Regions from separate parts of the Homo sapiens genome. Here region 1 is linked to region 2. The links come from fine-mapping of genetic effects on gene expression. A gene starts in region 2. The other region holds a variant in brackets. All regions are shown on one strand. Distances are between the middles of the regions.

Evidence for each region. PIP is the estimated chance that this variant, and not a neighbour inherited with it, causes the effect.
Region 1: its variant is fine-mapped to the expression of RBM19 in whole blood (TOPMed, PIP above 0.99). The same link has a PIP of 0.9 or more in subcutaneous fat.

What each region holds. Positions count from the first base shown.
Region 1 is chr12:113,812,967-113,823,386 of GRCh38, forward strand. It overlaps RBM19 (RNA binding motif protein 19), which reads right to left. Exons shown (of 24, transcript NM_016196.4): 24 at 9,091-10,355. The coding sequence ends at 10,258. Among named protein-coding and RNA genes, the nearest start is that of LINC01234, 44 kb to the left of the region's middle. RefSeq lists enhancers at 4,982-5,909, 5,910-6,835. The variant C/T (reference allele first, on the strand shown) is at 4,551.
Region 2 is chr12:113,961,349-113,971,768 of GRCh38, forward strand. RBM19 (RNA binding motif protein 19) reads right to left here and starts at 4,977. Exons shown (of 24, transcript NM_016196.4): 1 at 4,844-4,977; 2 at 884-1,066. The coding sequence starts at 4,879. RefSeq lists enhancers at 1,189-1,238, 1,379-1,428, 3,399-4,327, 4,328-5,255, 5,214-5,283.

The sequences.
Region 1 (10,420 bases), 150 kb before region 2:
GGTTGCTCAAGGTCACATTGTGGCTAAGTGGCAAAGTAGTAAAGAAGGGGTATGAATGATTGAAATCAGGGGTCGCCAAACCACAGCTCGTTTTTCTTTTTCCTGCTACTGTTGCCTGGTCTTGTCAATAAAGTTTTACTCAGCACATGTGCCGAGGCAGCATAGCAGAGGTGAAAGAGCCGGAACGGGGAATTCTGCCACAGTGTGACCTTGTAGAAGACACTCTGGGCTTTCTAATCTGTAAAATGATGGGGGTTTGCTTTAGATCGGGGTCACTGCACTTGATGCAAAGGGCCAGATGGTAAATATTTTAGGCTTTGCAGGTCATAAGGTCTCTGTTGCTACTCAACTCTGTTACATGCAGCAACTATTGACAATATGTAAACTAATGGGCATGGCTGTATTCCAATAAAACTTTATTCACAAAACCAGGCAACAGCAGCACAAAAAAAAAAAAAAAAAAAGAGGGCCATGGTTTGCCAACCCCTGATTTTGATCATTCACGTCGCTTCTTTACTACTTTGCCTCACGAAATTCATGTTTTTAATACTTTTCTTTATACGAATTCACCGGTATTCCTTAGAGCTTAGCAACACCATAGGTTTGATGACCTAAACAAATACAGGTTTGTATTTGTGGCATACATGTGAAAATAAACTTGTGAGTTAAAAATTAAAAAGAAAAGTGTGTGGGCCACCTAAACCATCTCCTGAAGCACAGAGGTCCGTGCTCTGTGCTTTGGGAGACATTTTTTAGTTCAATATATTTTTTTTCGAGATGGAGTCTCACTCTGTTGTCCAGGCTGGAGAGCAGTGGCACGATCTCGGCTCACTGCAACCTCTACCTCCCGGGTTCAAGTGATTCTCCTGCCTCAGCCTCCCGAGTAGCTGGGACTACAGGCACGTGCCACCATGCCCGGCTAATTTTTTATATTTTTAGTAGAGATGGGGTTTCACCATGTTAGCCAGGATGGTCTCCATCTCCTGACTTTGCGATGACCCACCTTGGCCTCCCAAAGTGCTGGGATTACAGGCGTAAGCCACCGCGCCAGGCCTAGGTCAGTGTTTTTCAAATCACTGAGGTGTTGAGGGGGAAGAGGAGTCTGGGTGGGGGAGGTCAGGCCTGTACCCTGACTTGGAACAAAGCAGTTTTGCTTAATCTGTTTAAGACATTTGTTTGGGAAACGGGTTCTGGGGCCAAAGGAGTTTGGAACCATCTAGAAGTGGCTTCAAAATGAACTTGAGGCCTGTGCAGTGGCTCATGCCTGTAATCCCAGCACTTTGGGAGGACGAGGCAGGAGGATTATCTGAGGTCAGGAGTTCATGACCAGTCTGGCCAACATGGCAAAACCTCACCTCTACTAAAGATACAAAACTTAGCCAGGCATAGTGGTGCATGCCTGTAATCTCAGCTACTTGGGAGGATGAAGTGGGAGGACTGCTTGAACCCAGAGAGGCAGGGGCTGCAGTGAGCCAAGATCGCGCCACTGCACTCCAGGCTGGGCGACAGAGTGAGACTCCATCTCAAAAAAAAAAAAAATAAAATAAAAAAATTAACTTGAAGCATTGAAGCTATGAGATTTCCCAGGTCTGTCTACACGGGGCTGTTAGTTCCCATGCTGACTCTTAGATTTCTTTTTTTTTCCCTTTTTTTTTGGGAGACAGCATCTCACTCCATTGCCCAGGCTGGAGTGCGATGGTGTGATCATGGCTCACTGCAGCCTCGACCTCCTGGGCTCAAGTGATCCTCCCACCTCAGCCTCCTGAGTAGCTGGGACCACAGGCCCACACTACCACAGCCGGCTAATGTTAAAAATTATTTGTAGAGATGGGGTCTCCCTATGTTGCCCAGGCTGGTCTCGAACTCCTGGCCTCAAAGCGATCCTCCCACCTCAGCCTCCCAAAGTGCCGGGATTACAGGAGTGAAGCACCGAGGCTGGCCCCTTTTAGATTTCTTAACCAAAGAAGGATAATTTCCTGTTATACCTCGGTCCAACCCTCTCTCCTCAACCTGAGACACGTATCCTCCGGTGTGTTCTCCACCTCTTAGCAGTCAACAGCTTACCGAGTTTAAAGCCAGTTCCTGCTTCCCTCCAAGCCAGCTCTTCCTGCAATGGTCTCAGCGCACACTAGCTTCCTTCTTCCCACTGCTTGGGCTGGAGCCAGGGCGCTAGCCTTGGTTGTGCACACCCCACAGCCAAACCTTTAGGCCACTGGCTGCATTTTCAGTCTGTCTACAGGCTTGGGCCACCTCACCCCTCCACTGCCACCTCCCTGCTCTGAGTCACCACCTCCCTGCTCTCCTGGCCACTGCAATGGCTTCTGAACACCTGTCCCTGCTTCAGTCCTTGACCTTCTGCTATTGATCCTTAACATGGTGGCAGACTGGGCCGGCTCTGCTCCCCTCCACAGGCCCAGACTTGACACCCAAGCCTGAGCCGGGTTGGCAGGCCCCTGCCCACTCTCCCTGGCTTTTTCTGGGGCCCGGGCTGTCCCCCTCACTCTCCCTTGAGCACACAGAGCTGTCCCCTTCCTCCCAGCTCTGCTCACATGCCACCTCCTCAGGGAGCCCTTCCTTGACCCTGCCAGACATCCCCAGAGAGAATGGAGCCTCAGCAGTGCCAGGGAAGCAATCCTCCACCCACTCATGTCTGGGTCTCCCCACATTTGACTACCAGCTCCTCGAGGCCAGGGAGTCTTATCTGCTGTGTCAACTCCTGCATTCCCAGCATCATGGCCATGCCTGGTGCACATAAGCTCAACACACATTTGCTGGGTGTTTCAGGTTTGAACCTCTCCCTTGCGCTCCTGGTCTGTATGAGCCCTGGAGGATGAAGCCAAGGACTCAGTCCTTGGAAGCCAACTGTCCTGAAGGTGGTCTCAGGGCTGCCCCCATCATCCCACTCTACCCTGAAAACCTATGATGCCTGGTCAATGCCTGGCACTGTCTGTCCACAGCCATAATGAGCTGCCACGCATGCCCACTGGTCCGGCACTGATGGCATTTGATATTTAAAAACAAAACAAAAAACACACTAGGGGTTCCATGGCAAGCAGGAGCTGAATAGGAGAATCTCACTGGGGGTGAGGAGAGAGAGCCCTTCACCCACACCGCCTTGAGGACAGGGCTCGAGTCGGCACACATTGGGCCTGCTCTTGCTGCCTTGAGGATAAGGCTCGAGCTGGCACACATTGGGCCTGCCCTCGCTGTAAAGAGGAGACAGCAGTTCAGGCCCTGCAGCAGGAGCGAGAGCACAGGGTGTGCCTCTGAAACCCAGCATAGGGCCGGGCCCCCTGCATGTGGGAACTGCCCTCACTGCTCTGGGGAGGTAGGGGCTTGGGCTTGTGCCAGAGCGAGCTGAGTGTGAGCCTGGTGGCAGCCCTCTGTGCAGCGCCATCTTGGGAATGTCACCCACCTCTCCATTTCTACATCTCCCATCAACTTACCTCTCACAGTTGCTAAAAGGACAAAGTGGGGCCACTGATTCCTTCCTCGAGTATTTACTAAGCATCTACTCCACGATGCAGCACGCACAAAATGGGCACAGACCTTGCTCTCCTGGGACTTCCGGTCCAGAGAGAGAGGTCAGACATGAAATAAAAACACAGAAACTGTTCACAGCTGTAAGGAGCTAGGGAGGTGTTCGGTGTGACGAGTGAATCTAACGAGGGGCCGGGGCTTGTCTAGGATGGGGCTTGGGAAAGTCATCTAGGCAAGGTGACTATTTCAATGGCCTAGGCGGCATGGGTGAATAAATTATTATTATGCAAGCATTCTATTAATCTTTTATTATTAAGACGGCTGAAAAAAATGATTACATATTATTAGTGAAGCTCAGTGGAAGAGAAGTGGGTGGAAAAGCTCTAACCCGAGAGGCCGCTTTCACAGGATGGGAGGATGGGTTACATTTTGCAAGGTGTACCAAAGGGTTAAAGTCATTTTCATTAAAATTTAAATTTCAGCATGCGCTCACTCTCCCTTCCCCGTCCTTTGAACGTTTGACTGGCAACCATTTCATATTTCAATCTCGGCAGAACAAATTGAATTAGATGTTGAAACCAAGCTCGGCTCTGTTCACCAAAGCCTGCGTGCTCTGCTCACACTAATCCTTTCCTAGACGCTGCGGAGCACAGACGGGCGCTGCGAGAGACGGCCCTGCACAAAAGACAAAAAAGACCAAGGCGGCAGGAAAAGGAGAGGAGGAAAAACAAGCGGGCAGAGGCTGCTGGAAATTGTCTTCCACCTGATGCATGGGGCTTAAAGCCTAGGAGACAGAGCCTGCGTCCACGCAGCAGGGAAGGCCAGTGTGGAGGCACACAGAGCGACCCGAGTTTCTGTCTTGTGTCTGGGGCACCCAGCACAGTGTCTCGCACACAGCAGATGCCCAGCAGGTGTCTGATGGATGAATGAATGAATGAATGAATGAATGAGGGAGAGGACTCACTCTATCAGCCCGTGCCTCTAGCCTGTGCCTGTTCCTCCCCTCTGCAGAGTGGGCCCGGCTATTCTCCTCACCCTCACAACTTCCTGAGAAGTGATAGCATGCTGCG[C/T]TCAGTGGCCTGGTGGCTCTCCAGTCCCCGTGCCCAGTGCAAACCAGCGGAGGATGCCAGCTCAAGTTTCTGGGGACGAAACAGGCAGACCTCCGGGCCTGGCTTGGGATCCCAGTGGCACCCCAGGATCACCCCATGTTCGCTGGCTCTTTCTTTAAACTGTGTAAGTCTGTGGAATGACCTAGAGGTGCTGACCCAGGGGCCCCGGAGTCTGGTTTTCAGAAGAGACAGTTCTGCTGCCGTGGCCATGGAGTCCTCACCCACTTGAGACCCCCCAGTTGAAAGGGTTAGGAACAGGCTGGGCATGGTGGCTCACACCTGTAATCTCAGCACTTTGGGAGAACAAGGTGGGTGGATCACTTGAGGTTGGGAGTTCAAGACCAGCCTGGCCCACATGGTGAAACCCTGTCTACTAAAAATACAAAAAATTAGCCGGGCGTGGTGGCTCACACCCGTAATCCCCACACTTTGGGAGGCCGAGGTAGGTGGATCACTTGAGGTCAGGAATTCGAGACCAGCCTGGTCTACATGGTGAAACCCAGTCTCTATGAAAAATACAAAATTAGCCGGGCGTGGTGGTGCATACCTGTAATCCCAGCCTTGGGAGGCTGAGGCGGGACAATCGCTTGAACCAGGGAGGTGAGCCCAGATCACGCCACTGCACTCCAGCCTGGGGAACAGAGCGAGACTTTGTCTCAAAAAAAAAAAAAAAAAAAAAAAAGAAAGGGTTAGGAACAGACACACAGACACAGCAATAGACAGGCAGCTGCTCCTGTGGGGGTGCTCACCTGTTTCCCCACAACCATTGGCCCATTTGGGCTTGAACTTTGGTTCTGTGCAGGAAGAGCCAGGTGCTGGTTTGCCTACTGGGGCCAGTGGGCAGGGGGGCACCTCCTACAGGCTCCTTCCTGGATCATAGGCTCCTCCCCAACATGGCGCAGCGCCCTGTGAGTCCCTATCCCGCCCCAGCCTCTGGACGTGGGCCCAGCTGGCCTGACATCTGCTGGGTGCAGCCCCACAAGCTTGCCTTGTTTTGAAGTTATGTTCACAATAATGATGGCAACTACCATTACTAAGTACTCACTAGGCATGACACAGTCTGCTAACTACTTTCCATTCATGACCTTCTGTTTCTGTCTTAACCAATCCAATGAGGCAGGAATTCCTGCACCCATTTGAAAGACATGGAACGCAAGGCCTGGAGACACTGAGAGCCTAGAGATTCTAACGCAGGCCTTTGGAGTCAGGGCCTGTGCATTCCGCTCTCCTCCTCCCGTCCCCACTGTCTCTCACTCCTGTCCCTCCTCCAGGCCCCACTGTCCCTCACCCCTGTCTGTTCTCCAGGACCTGTCTGACCACCCATCTCCCTCCTGCAGTCTGACTGTGTGTATCCTATAGTAGAGATGCCAGGGCCCTCCTCACCCATCCAGGGGTGGACCCTTGGTGGAGACGCCACGTGGGACAGAGGGAGAGGGCGGGATGCCTGGAGTTTCTCTTCTACCAGCCTTCCAGGCGCCCGCTAGTGCCCACTGCTGGCCAAACTGAACACAAGCCTCTTGATAAGGGAGTTTCAGAGACACAGCTCAAGGGGCCAGGCCCCTGAGACCCACAGCGGGTGGGAGACGGACGTGAGGACAGCAGATGCGGTTCCAGCCAGCCCTCCACTCTGGAAACAGCCTGTCCCCGTTCCTCCCAGCTAACTGAGCCACACTCTGAACACCGGGTCACAGGCCTCATCCAGATGTGTGCCTCTGGCTTTTCTGAGGCACGTGTCCTACTGACCTCCCACCTCCCTGTGTCCCTTTGGCCCCTCTGGCCTCTTGGTGTCACCTCTCCTTTCCTACGCAAGTGCTCTGGTCCAGCCTGTTATGGTTCTCTTTCCCGGCTCTCTGGTGACCATATCGGCAGGGAAGGGTCACAGCCCCCTGAGATGTGGCTGAGGCAGTTTCCTGCCCCCTGCAGCAGTCAGTCCTGAGCCGGGTCAGGAGGCTCACCGCCCTGGAGGAGTGCTCCCTCCTCAGTGCCACCTCTGTGGGTTATTTCTGGAGTTTCTCTCCCAGATCTTCTGGGTGTCTGTGTCTACCAACGTCCCATCATTGCTTCAAAAACAACCGAAGCCGCCTTTCAGAAAGCTCCCGTGTCCCCCTCCCAGTGACAGCGGTGACTCAGTCCCTTGCTGCCTTGGCTCAAAGGCTTAGAGTCTCCCAGTTCAACCCCCACATGCTGGATGGAGGAATTTCTCGTAAGACGCTTTCACCAGTCCCTCTTCTCCAAAGGAAGAAGAGATGAAGCCCCTCCTCTGGGCCAGGCAAATGACTTTTCCCGAGCTCCGCTTTATGGCTACCTGGCTGTACTTTACTGCATTCTAGAACAATGATGATGATTGTAACAAAAATCTTAATTGCTTTCCTAGTTCCCGTTTAAAACAGTTATTTTTGACAGGGTAAAAGGCTCTGGGTCACTGAGATCTTGCTCACACTCCAGGTTGTCCCCTGTACTGAGTGCTGTGACTGAGAGGGACAGGGGATGGGGGATAGGGGGTTGGGGCTGGGTGTAAAGAGGAGCTGGGTGTGGTTACTGCAGACGAACTGATCAGGAGTCTGTCTCCCTCAGTGAGGAAGCAGAAGTTAAACCGGGGCATCCAAACTTTTGGCTTCCCTGGGTCACCCTGGAAGAACTGTCTTGGACCACACATAAAATACAATAACACTAGTGATAACTGATGAACTAAAAAAAAAAAAAAAAATTGCAAATTTAAGGAAGTTTACAAATTTGTGTTGGGCTGCATTCAAAGCCCAAGCTTGGGTTGGACAAGCGTGATTTAAGATCTCAAAGGAAAATAAAAAGGCGCCACGCAGGAAGAATGTGAGGGAAGGGCATCCCAGGCAGAGGGAAGAGGCAGCTCGAGGGCCCTGGGGTGGGAGCCTGCAGGGAGGAAGGCCGGGACAGCGAGTGCAGGGTCAGGTGAGGTGGGGCCTCGGTGCTGGGGTGAGCAGCGGGACTCGACTTTCCATGCGTCAGGGAGGCCCTAGAGGGTTTGAAGCTGCAGACTGACATGATCCAGCTCACGGATCAGTCAGGCCACACTGGCTGCACGAGGACAGCTGAGCCGGAAGAGAGGAGATGAGGGTGCAGTCTGGTGGGCGCGGCATGAAGGGGCACCCTGAGATCTCTGTGGGAGTGGACTCCACTACTCCTGTGTGCTCACAGATCTGCCCCTTCCAAACAGTGCGTGCCTGGGGCAGGGGTGCAGGGGCCAGGCTCAGTATATGGCCTCTAGGCTGCCTCACTCCCCACTGCCAATTCCAGGCCAGGCCTGGCGAGTGGCTGGAAGCTCTCCCTCCTCTTGCTACCTTTCACTCTCCTGCAGTTCCTGAACCTTCCCCAGCTCACCAGCTTTCTTTTGGCCACAGGGAAGGCAGTGACGCAGGAAGGGTTGGACAGCCCTGATTCCCATCATTTCACTGTGTGAGCCCTGGCAGGGGCCTGCAGCTGCCTGGGCCTGATAACGCTTTTGTGACGGAGATGCTACTTGCATCACTCCATTTTAAAGATGAGGAGACTGAGGACTCAGCAGGTTAAGTCACTTGCCGAGGCTCACGAGGCTGGAGAGTGGTGGACTGTTACGGAGCCCAGGCAGATCCGAATACAGAGCCCATGTCTGCTCACCCCGCACCAAGCCCTGGATGATGCTGAATCCTGCTCTGGGGGGAGGTTCTAGAAGCATCCTCTGGGCCAGTTAAGTCAGTGCCAAAAGATGCCTGCCTCTGCACCAGGCCCGTGGGTCTACACCTGAGTTTTGGTGATCAGCCAGCCATCCCTGCTGGCTCTGGTGGTGTGGAAATGTGAGTACAAATTGTATAGACCAGAAGGTTCAGCCAGAAGGAGCCATGTGCCGCCGAACAGGACACGATCCAGCTCACAGATCTGAGCAGTGGGAAGGCATGGGGTAGGTCTCCAGCCCTGTCATTCCGCATGACCTACGGCAACTTGGGACCCTGGTCACCTGAGGGTCGGCCTGGGTGTGGTTTAACAGAGACACTGTTCAGCCCCCACATCCAGAAGGCTGTGGTTGATGTGACTCTGTGAGCCACCCCACTATAAAAGCTGGAGAATGTGGCTGGGCGTGATGGCTCACACCTGTAATTCCAGAGCTTTGGGAGGCTAAGGTGGGAGGACCACTTGAGGCTGCAGTGAGCTATGATCATGCCACTGCACCCTGTCTCTAAAAAAATTAAAAATAAACGGCTGGGGAACGAGCCATTCTGTGTCTTTTGTTTCCACGAATTCTCAGGGATGAGCTTGGATGGCTAAGGGGGTGCCTGCCCTAGAGGACACGAGGCGCATGCTTGGTCGTGCAGGCTGCCAGCTCTGTGTTGCCTTGCCTGGGCTCTGGGCCACTCCGAAAACTGGATGAAGACTGGAACCTCATCCCCACCAAAATGCACAGACCATGTTTTATGCACAGAGTCTGAAGATTCCCAAACTCTCACTTGGAGGCCCACCCAGTGACTCTAAATGAAGAAGAAAACAAAAGTGCTGATGAGAATCTTCTCTGGGCTTTACTTGGCTTGACTCACTTAATTCTGGCACTGTCTATCTGAGGTAGGCACAATTATCACCCCCATTTCCTAGAGAGAAAAACAGAGGCTCAGCCAGGATGTCATTAGTCTGAGGTCGCACCTCGGGGAATGGCGATGTCTAGATTCAGACTGCAGTGAGATGCAGTGCAGTTCTTGCTCTGCCCTCTCCGTCTTGCCCTCTGCCTGGTGCTGGCACAGGCCCTTCCAGGCGGGAGGCTGCGTCTCAGGCTGGAGAAAATGTGAACACGGGCGCCTGAGAGAAGCCTGGGGATGCTGCTGGCCAGCGGAGAGGACCTTGATGCATTTCACAGGGCTCTGGGCCCGTGAGCAGAACGCGTCCACCATGAGTGACATCATTCAGCTCAGCCAGGGAGCTTGGCATCTGGGCTTGGAGCTCGATGCTTCATGAGCCGCTGGGAGGCTTCCCTGGGTGACTGAACCAGGGCTCGTGGTCCCAAGTGACGAGGATGGGGCAGGACAGAGACCAAGTCCCAAGCCGTGAACAGTCCCTTGGAAAGACATAGGTGGGAATTCTAGCTCAGCAGCCCTGGAGGGAGAGCAGGAACAGGGCTCAGCACCATGCCCGGCACTCTTCATGCATTACTGCGTTTATTTCTCTCTAAAACCTTATGAAGTAAGAACTAGCTAGCAAGGGGAAGGCTGGGCCCAAGGAGATAAGGAAACTGGGCCAGGGTCTCCCAGCTTGAGCTTGGAGACGGGGTTTCATGTCCAAGCAGCCTGATGCCAGAGAGCTGGCCCTCGTCCCCTTACTCTCCTGGGGTGGGGACAGGGGGAGCAGGGGTTCTAGCTCCCTGTGTAGCTGTTCCCAAGTCTCTCTTCCTAACGTGGCTGCTCCCTTGGACTCTTCCGTGTCTGCTACAGAGCAGGTGCGCAGTCAGTGTCTGCTAGAACGCGTCACTGGTGAAACCCAGGATGCCTGGGCCGCTGGGCAGTGGCCTGAGGCCTTCCTCATCCCCTGTCTCCTCCGACCTTGGACCAGTGCAGGGTGGGGCCGCCTGCCGCTCCCCGCCCCGCCCCCCAGCCCACATGGTGGTGAGTGCAGAAGCTGGAGCGGCTGTCCCGGTCCCCAGGGCCCCGGAGCCACACACCCTCTCGGTGCCAGCTCACAGCTGAAGGGTCTGCTCCTCGCTGTCGCTGTCACTGCCTTCCAGCTGCTCCAGGATCTCGTCCAACACCACAGACCGCTTTTTCTTCGGGGGCTCTGTGGGAGCCCAGATGGCAAGAGAGGAGAAAAGAACAGCCGAGAGGGTTGGGAGGCAGGAAGAG
Region 2 (10,420 bases):
CTTCCAAAATAGGCTTGTTATCTCTATAATAATGACATGCTCACGGTACAAAATTCAAATAATATACAAAAGTACAATGGAAGTTAAAAAAGATGTACTCCAATTCCTATCACTCATGGAGAGGAATGATTAGTATTTTGGTACAAATCCTATCCTATGGCCTTCTATGCATTTATCATATATGTATGGATAGAGGAATACGATTGTGTCTATATAGGATCACGAGACATATATATATTTATCCATCATCTGTTTTTTCCTTCTCAACAAAGCATTAGAGATGTTTTTACGAAGTCACTAAATACACGAGTGACCTGAGTGGAGCCCACTCCTCCAGGAAGCTTTCCTGACTCCTCCCTGGTCCGGCTATAGATCTTTGTTCTCCCACAGTCCCTGGGGCTCACCCTATCATAGCACTGATGTCACTGAGCCAAAGCAGCCTGCTGACCTGTCAGCCCCCTGCCTGCCCAGAGACAGCAGGCTCCATGAGGACAGGGGCTGAGGCATCACCTTTTTCTCTAAACTCCCAGCATCATTGAGTGCTTGCTAAATGCATGAGTGAATGGATGAGGTAGAGCTGTGGTTCTCAAGGTGTGGGCCTCAGACCAGCAGCATGGTCGTCACCTGAGGGCTTGTTGGATGTGTGAATTCTTGGGTCCTGACTCCATGCACTGAATCAGATGCTCTGGGGACGGGCCCAGGAAGCTGTTATAATAAGCTCTCAGGTGATTTGTATGCACATGAAAGTGTGTGAATCGGTGAGGAAGAAAACCAAAGACATCACAAAGTGAAGAGGGACGGTCTTTGAACTCAAGTGCTGAGTGAAAGATCAAACAACGTCACACTTGACAGGAAGGTAAGGGTGAGACTCCTGCCCACTCACTGTGATCCGGGATGTGTCGATGAAGCTCTTGTTGAAATGCTTCTGTGCCTTCTGGGCCTCTTCCTCGGACTTGAAGCCAATAAAACCAAACTTGCGGAACTTGCCATCTTTGGTGAACTTCAGGCTGCAGTCTGTCAGCGTGCCGAAGGCGGCAAACAGCTGCCTGAAACGCTCCTCCTTCATCTAGGACAGAGGGAAAGGAATGAGAGACGAACTGGAAAGTCCCCAGAGCAAGGGGACAAAATGGGCTGGAAACCTGAGGCCACGAGATTCTCCAAGGGTGGCCTTAGATGAAGAGGGGCAGAGTGTACTTTTCTAGTTACAACAGGTTCCAGCTCTGACTCTAGCACGAGTTGTGTGGCCTTGAGAAAGTCCCTTAACCACTCACTGATGTGGAAATCATGACTCATAATGGCTGCAAATGACATCTTCCTACCCTATGGGGCTCCTATGAGGATAAGACCAATTACAGAAGCAGTATTACGTCTGCTACATAGTAGATACCTAATAAATACTTGTAGGAATAAATGAAAGAATGAACAGGCATGGTAAGCTATATATATCTTTGTTAATAAAGCCCCCCCAAAAGATGCCCACATCCTAATCCCTGGAAACTGTGGATATGTTACCTTACAAGGCAAAAGGGACTTGTCAGGTGTGACTGATATGGAGATGGGGAGATGATCTGGATTATGCAGCCAGGTCCAATGTCACCTCAAGGGTCCTTATGAGAGGGAGGCGGGAAGATCAGAGAAGATGGAAACAGAAAGATTGGAAGATGCTATGCTATTGGCTCCAAATATGGAGTATATAGCTATGAACCAAGGAAGGCAGGTGCTTCTAGAAGCTGAAAAAAGGCAAAGGGACAGATATTCCCACAGAGCTTCCAGAAGGACTGCAGCCCTGCCAAAGCCTTGATTTTAGGATTTCTGACCTGCAAAACTGTAAGATAAGGATTGTCTGGATTGTTTAAGCCACTAAGTTTGTGCTAATTTGCTATAGCTGCACTAAAAAACTAACACACTATTATTATAATTTGGTCAAGAAGCCCCACACTATGGAAAACAGGCTCCTGGCTTCTCACCATCTTCACTGCAGCCAGGCTACCCTCACAACTCAGTTTTCTAAGCAGATACTGGGATATTTGTGTGTGTGGTAGTGGAGTTGAGGGGACATTCAGGGCCCCACGAACAGCCAAAATAAGTTTGAAAATGCAAGAAGCTAGAGGCCTTGGCAGTCCAGCCAGAAGATGACATTTTCTGAGGTAGCTTCTTACTAACTGATCTAATCAAAATCTCAATCACACTGTGAGTTAGGAATTTTTGTCCACATTTTATAGAGAAAATGAAACTCATAAGGGATAAATGATCTGCCCAAGGCCTACAGAATCAAGGTTTGTGACTCAATTCAGAAATATAAGACAGTGAATTCAATTCCTCAGTGCCTGGGAGAGACCTGGCTCAAGTCTGAATCCATCATTCCTTTGCCAAAAACCTTTCGGTGACTTTCTGGCACCAAAGTCTCAAGGACGAGCACCTAAAGGAAAACATGCAATTCTTCAAGATCTGCCCTGACCAACCTCTTCAGCACCACGCTTTGACAAATTTCTCACAGCCTTCTCACTTCCGAGGTTTTACTTTGGTTGTCCCCTCTGGGTGATATTTCCCAAGACAGGCCCTGGCTAACTCCTCATTCTCAGTTCAATCATCTCCTATTCCAGGAGGCCTTTCTTAGATGCCTTAGATGGACGAGATAACCAACCCTCACTGTGCTCCCACAGCACTCGGTTCACATGTCAGTGATGCACCTTGCATCGTAATGATCTGGTGCCTCTCTTTTCTGCTAGCCTGCAAGTCCCATTAAAAATAAGGACACAGGCTTATCCACCTCTATCTACAGTGTCAGCAATATCACAAGTACTCACTACTAATTATTTCCTCAATTCAATCCCTAAACTAAAGATTGCTCAATTCAATCCCTGCTCTATAAATTACACCAGTGTGTGACCTCAGGCAAATCCCTGTACCTCGCTGTATCTTGGTTTCTTTACCTTTAAAATGGGCGTAAAAATAAAACTTACCTCACAGGGATATGGTGAGGATTAAATGTTACTTTACCTAAAGCACCTGGAACAGTGCCTGGCACACAGTAAACTCTCCAAGTGTCAGCTGCAACTGCCCTTGTTTTTATTATTCTTTCATTCATGAGATAAGACAAACAATGATAAGAGAGTCAACTACACTGTGAAGTGCAACAAAGCTGAATTTGGGAAGAAAAGGAAGTGCAGCCACGCTAAAAATCCTCATCGCACAAAGCAAGGCATCAAGAGACATGTCTAACCTGATGGATGGATGAGTAATAGATATTTTTAAGTATACTACTCAGAGATTATAACAGGATAATTAAAAACAAGAATATTACAGACACTGGAGAGGAGGAACAGATGATCTAAATTCCTTATTTTTCACAGTTGAGGCCTAGCAGATAGTCACTGGGGCAGGCAGGTCAAAAGGAGGAAAGTACACTCCTCAAATATACAGAGATACATGTGAGGAGTCCCAAAAACAAATCAATGAAGATGGTTACTCCTGGACAGAGAGGGAAGGTAGGACAGAGCAAAGACTTTGCTACTCATGTTATACACTACTATACTGTTTGAATTTTGAAAACTGTGTGTTACAAAGTTCCTTTGTCCCACCTGACAAATGAAAAAAAAAAAAGGAAAGGAAAAAACTCACAACATTAGAACAGAAATGGGGGCCAGGTGCAGTGGCTCACGCCTGTAATCCCAGCACTTTGGGAGGCCGAGGCGGTGGATCACCTGAGGTCAGGAGTTCGAGACCAACTTGTCCAACATGGCGAAACCCCATGTCTCTACTAAAAATAAAAAAATTAGTCGGGCTTGGTGGCGCGTGTCTGTAGTCCCAGCTACTTGGGAGGCTGAGGCAGGAGCATCGCTAGAACCCGGGAGGCAAAAGTTGCAGTGAGCCGAGACTGCCGAGATTGCTCCACCGCAGTCCAGCCTGGGAGACAGAGCCAGACTCCGTTTAAAAAAAAAAAACAAAAAAAGAAAAAAACAAAAAACAAAACCAAAAAAAGCCATGAAAGAGAGAGAAAAAAAAGAGATAAGACAAACAATGATAAGAGAATCAACTACACTTGAAACACAACAAAGCTGAATTTGGGAGGGAAAGGAAGTGCAGCTACGCTAAAAATCCTCATCCCACAAAGCGAGGCATCAAGAGACACTGTCTAACCTGATGGAAGGAGCAGTAATCCATTTAAAAACAAAAAAACAAAACAGAACAAAAAACAGCGAGAGAGAGAAAAAAGGATGATCCATTCGAGCCCACCGCATCTAATCATCTAATATTACGTACATTCACCTATTTTGCCTACCACGTGTCGGGTTCTGCGCTGGGCTCCAGGGAAACAAAAAAGTATGGCTGGGTCACCACTCCCCACTTACTGGATAAATGCTGTAAAGCCCTTTACCCACTCCGTATTCCTACTTGCCCTAAGGATGGGAGTGGGAATTGGAACGCAGGTCCGCAGATTAATATTCCCCATGTCTTCCCCAACAGTTTCCAGACTGGGAGAGGAATATAAATACAGTGTCGGACCATGTCCCGGGTCAACAACTAAAAAACAGTGATCGAATGAAAGAGGTTGTGGGAGCAGGGTATTCGCCACAAGGTGGGAGTTGTCATCTCCCCGAGAAGAGGTGTGTTAGGAGTCAGGTACCAAACAACCGGCCGTGAAACCGTAAGCAGTCACTATTCCTCTTTCCTCGGGATCAAATGGGGATAAGCCCAGGATCCCGCCCCCTTTGAGTTCAGAATTGGCCCGGAGTCCTGCCCCAGAGCAAAAATTCTTCGATCACCTCCAGGCATCTCTTCCCTACCTCACAGCTCCCGGCTGGTCTCATTTCAGATTCCCAAGTCCTGCCTCTGCACTCACCCCATTCGGGAGATTCTTCACGATCAGTCGCGACATGGCGCAGGGTCCCCGCTGTTTTGATTCCAACACGACTGGTCAGCGTCTTCCACCAAGTTTCACGCTACCGCCCTGGGCGCCGCCATCTTTACCGAGCCGGAACACAGTCACGTGGCTGAGACCTTGGCCTGACCTGTCCGGAAGTAGGCGTGGCTAATCCAAAACTACTCAGGGAGGTCACACCCCACAAGGGGTGGGCCTGGGCGCTTGCATTTTGCGCAGGCGCAGGGCCTTGGGCGGATTCTGTGAGACGCCAATGCAGCGGAGAAGGCGGCAGGGGGCGCCGGTCCCTAACATGCGCCGGTTTAGCTCGGTGTTAAGGGTCGCGCCAACCGGGCAATCGCGTTCTCTCCTTTTTCTTATTTTATTTTTATTATTGAGCCTTAGGACTCCCCTGAGAACGGGGGCAAGATTAGGGACCCTTGCCTTCCTCGTAGAAATGGGGAAAGTGAAGTTTAGAGAGATTGCCAGCCAACACAAATCAAGTATTGAGCCTTTTGTGTAAATACTTGGAATGAACATGTTGGAAATAAACGCTCTCATTTTGCAGGCAGATAAACTGGGAATCGTGCGTGTAAAGCAGCTTGCTCAAAGTCTTATAACTATGAATTGGAAAGTCAGATTCGAGCTAGGGACTGCCTAGGGCCCTACAATGAGTCTCTACGCCTTCAACCCCAGCCCCACAAGCATTTTGCCTCCCTTCCTAATGTTTGGAACTCTCAGCTGGCCAATCTTCTAGCTGAGAGATCTTGGCCAAAATGGCCTCTGAGCCTTTGTGTCTACTTCTATAAAATGGGAATAATTCTTTATTATGCTAGGGGTTAAGGAGGTGAGAACGTGAAAGGGATGTTATTTTCCTATTGCTTCTCTGAGCATTCTCGGTACCTACTCTTGGATGGAGACATCCTATGAAAACCCCTATTTTCACTCTTAAATGACGGTATTTCCTTTCTGTTTCCCCACAGTGCCTCAGCTGCACTGGACGTTGCTGCCAAGCTTCTGCAATTTCCTTCACCTAAAAGACATTCCGTCCCCCCTTCTTATTGTTAACAGCTTTATCACAAACCATGCAATTCACCCACTTAAAGTGCACAATTCAATGGTGCTGACTATATTTACAGAGGTGTGCAGCCATCACCACAATCAATGCTAGGACATTTTCATTACCCCCAAAGAAACACCACACCCTTTAGCTATAACCTTCCAATTCCTCCCTCTCCCTTCCCTCTGATAACCACTAATCTACTTTCCGTCTCTATGGATTTGTCTGTTATGGACATTTCATGTAAATGGAATAATACAATATGTAGTCTTTTGTAATTGACTTCTTTCACTTAGCATAATGTTTTCAAAGTTCTTCCATGTTGCAGCATGAATCAGCACTTTATTTATCTGTTTATTTATTTGAGACAGGGTCGGGCTCTGTCACCCCGACTGGAGTGCAGTGGCACAATCTCAGCTCACTGCAACCTCCGCCTCCCAGGCTCAAGCCATCCTCCCACCTCAGCCTCCTGAGCAGCTGGGACTACAGGCACATGCCACCATGCCTGGCTAATTTTTTTTTTTTGGTAATTTTTTGGTAGAGGCGAGGTTTCAACATGTTGCCCAGGCTGGTCTTGAACTCCTGGGCTCAAGCAATCCACCTGCCTTGAACTTTCAAAGTGCTGGGATTACAGACGTGAGCCACCACACTTTTTTTGCTGAATAGTATTACATATATGGATGTATTACATTTTATTTATTCATCAGTTGATGATGGACATTTGGGTTGTTTCCGCTTTGTGGCTACTGTGAATAATCTTGCCGTGAACATTTACCTGTAAGTTCCTGTGTGGGCATATGTTCTTATTTCTCTTGGATATATTCCTAGGAGTAGGATTGCCTGATCATATGGTAACTCTATGCTTAACCTTTTTAGAACCTGCTAACCTGTTATCCAAAGTGGCTTCCCCATTTTATATTCCTACCAGCGGTATATGAAGGTTCAAATATCTCCACATCTCCTCCAGTGTTTGTTATTGGGTCTTTATAATCATAGCCACTCTAGTGGGTGTACAGTGGTGACTCAATGTTTTGATTTGCATTTCCCCGATAACTAATGAAACAGCATCTTTCATGTGCTTTTGGCCACTGGAATATCTTTCTGAACCCATTCCCATCCCCTCTCTAAGACCAGCTCAAACATGGCATCCTCGAATATGCCTCTTTCCTACTGAGCCCCAAATGCAGGGAGCTCATGCATCTGCCACAGCATAAACCTACAGAACTCGCTGGTGAGGAGCGCACAGTGTAGGTTCAGAGTTATAGATGAGGCCACTTGTTCTTTCTACATTATGTTGCCATAGGGGCATCCTTAGATCCATCTTTGCAAAGCATCACACTGGGCACCAGGAGGAGACAGGTAATAGGAGTTCATTAAATGCTAATTGTAAATTAAGGTCTGTCCATTCAACAGAATTCTATGCAGTTGTTAAAAAACGGTAGGTATGTAGCTATAAATGTTTTTGAAGGAAATGCATCAGTCAGCAGGACACAGAGGTATACTCAAAAGGATTTAACAAAAGCAAATCTGGACAAAAAGCTATTTACAGAAGGGTGGGCAGTGTAGTGGGATGAATGATCCCCTGTCCCCTCACCACCACACACACTGGGGGCATCCTGACCCCTGGAAGCTGTAAATGTGACTTTATTTGCAAAAAAGTGTTGTATTAGTTTGTTCTCACGCTGCTAATGAAGACATACCTGAGACTGGGTAATTTATAAAGGAAAGAGATTTAATGGACTCACAGTTCCACATGGCTGGGGAGGCCTCACAATCATGGTGGAAGAGCAAGGGATGTCTTACCTGGTGGCAGGCAAAGAGAGAATGAGAACCAAGTGAAAGGCTTTCCCCTTATAAAACCATCAGATCTCGTGAGACTTATTCACTACCACGAAAACAGTATGGGGAAACCACCCCCATAATTCAATTATCTCCCACTGGGTCCCTCCCAGGACACGTGGGGATTATGGGAGCTACAATTCAAGATGAGATTTGGTGGGGACACAGCCAAACCATATCAAGGGTCTTTGCAAATGTACTTAAGGGTCTCAAAATGAGATCATCCTGAATTATCCTGGTAGACCCTAAATCCAATGACACATGTCCTTTTAAAGGACACACAGAGAACGTCATGTGTAGGTGGAGGTAGAGTCTGGAGTGATGCAGTCACAAGTCAACGAAGACCTGGAGCCACCAGAAGCTGAAAGAAGCAAGGAAGCGTTCTCCCTTGGAGGTTTTGGAGGGAGCATGGCCCTGCTGGTGCTTTGGGGGATTCTGGCCTCCAGAAATGTGAGAGAATAACTTTGCATTGTTATGCCATCTAATTTGTGGTAATTTGAGACAGCACCTGCAGCAAATGAATACAGGAAGGGTTAAGGGAACCAACAAAGGATGGCCAAACCCCAGGGCCTGGCAACAGTGGGGAGCTATCACCACCCCTGGGGCTGAAGGGCAGAGTAGGACATGTCATTCCTGAGCTTCAGTGATGCCAGGAGCCATGGAAGAGGGACGTACTTTAAGGACTAGAGCTATAGAGAGATACAGCCACTGTGGAACCACAGGTGTGTGTGTGTCGGGGATAAATACACTGTCCCCTCTTTCTCTTCCCAACTGCAGTTTCCTACTGGAGCCTCCCCTTGGCCGAACCAATGGGAAGCTGGAGGCATGATCACAGATGTTGCAGTGCACACAGATTGCATCTGGGGCACAGAGCAAAGTGGAGGAGCAGGCTCAGGGAATGGGAGATGGGCTGTTAGAGAAGAACTAGCACATGGGACATGGGACAATCTCCAAAATATATTGTTAAGTGAAAACCAGCAATATACTAAATAATGTATTATGTATGCTTTCACTTAGGTAAAAACAAAACACACACACAAAAAAAGGAGGGAGATGGGTGAGGATACATAGATACTTGTCATGTTTGTAGGCCAGGGTAGTCGTAAATTTCCAAATGTATTGTCTTGCAGTTCTGAAGGCTAGAAGTTCGAGATGAAGGTGTTGGCAGCGCCGGTTCCTTCTGAGAGCCGTGAGGTTGAATCTGTTCCTCCCTGTCTCACTTCTGGTGGTGTGCTGGCAATCTTTGACACTCTTTGGCCTGTAGACATGTCACCCCGATCTCAGCCTTCATCTCCACATGACAGTCTCCCTGTGTCCATGAGTTCATGTTCAAACTTCCCCATTTTAAAAGACATTGGATTAAAGCTAATTCTAATGACCTCATTTTAATATAGTTACCTCTGTAAACACTCTATTTCCAAATAACATCACTTTGTGAGGTATGAAAAGTTAAGACTCCAACATAGGAATTTGGAGGGGACACTATATATGATTTATGTAAGCAAAGGCGATCTCAAAAGATACATGAGGAAGTGGTAACAGCAGTTGCTTCTGGGGAGGGGACCGAGGAAGTGAGTATACGGATGGATGGAAATGTCCTTTACCTTGAGTAACCTTTTATAATTTTGATATTTCATTATGAAAAAATTACCTATTATTTTTAATACATTAAAATGTTAATCATGTATAAACTACATCTGCATATATTTATACTTAACCATAGGGTAAAGTCAACAAGCATGTATATTAATTGTGGGCATTTCTGCAGGATGGCTTTGGAGGGGTGAAATTGTAGGGAGCCCAGTAAATCTTTATGTATTTATTTTGGGTTTTGTCTTTTTTTTTTTTTGAGACGGTAACTGGGATTATAGGTGCACACCACCGTGCCTGGCTAATTGTTTGTATTTTTATTACAGATGGGTTTCACTGTGTTGGCCAGGCTGGTCTCAAATTCCAGACCTCAAGTGATCCACCTGCCTTGGCCTCCCAAAGTGCTTGGATTACAGGCATGAGTGACTGTGTCTGGCCTTTTTTTTTTTTTTTTTTTTTTTTTTGAGACAAGGTCTTGCTCTGTTGCCCAGACTGGAGTGCTGTGGTGTGATCAGGCCTTACTGCTGCCTTGATCTCCTGAGCACAAGTGATCCTCCTTCCTCAGCCTCCGAAGTGGGTGGGACTACATGCATGCATTACCACACCCAGCTAATTTTTAAATTTTTTGTAGAGACAGGGTCTGGCTTTGTTGCCCAGGCTGGTCTCAAATTTCTGGGCTCAAGTGATCCTCTCGCTTTGGCCTCCCAAAGTGCTGGGATCACAGGTGCACGCCACCATGCCCGGTCTGTATATGTTTTAAATCAGAGATTGGCAAACTTTTTCTTAAAAAGTCAGAGAGTATTTCACTATGTGGTCTCTAATGCAACTTCTGCATCCTGCTACTGTATTTTGAACACATCCAGAGCTAACATCTGTGGCCGTGTTCCAATAAAACTTTATTTACAAAACCAGGAAGCCACCCCATGAGCTATAGTTTTAAGTTACAGGATTATGGGGTGTATTGATTTTCTAGGGCTTCTATATCAAATTACCAGAAACTGGATGGCTTCAAACAACAGAAGTGTATTCTCTTGCAGTTCTGGAGGCCAGGAATTTAAAATCAAGGTGTC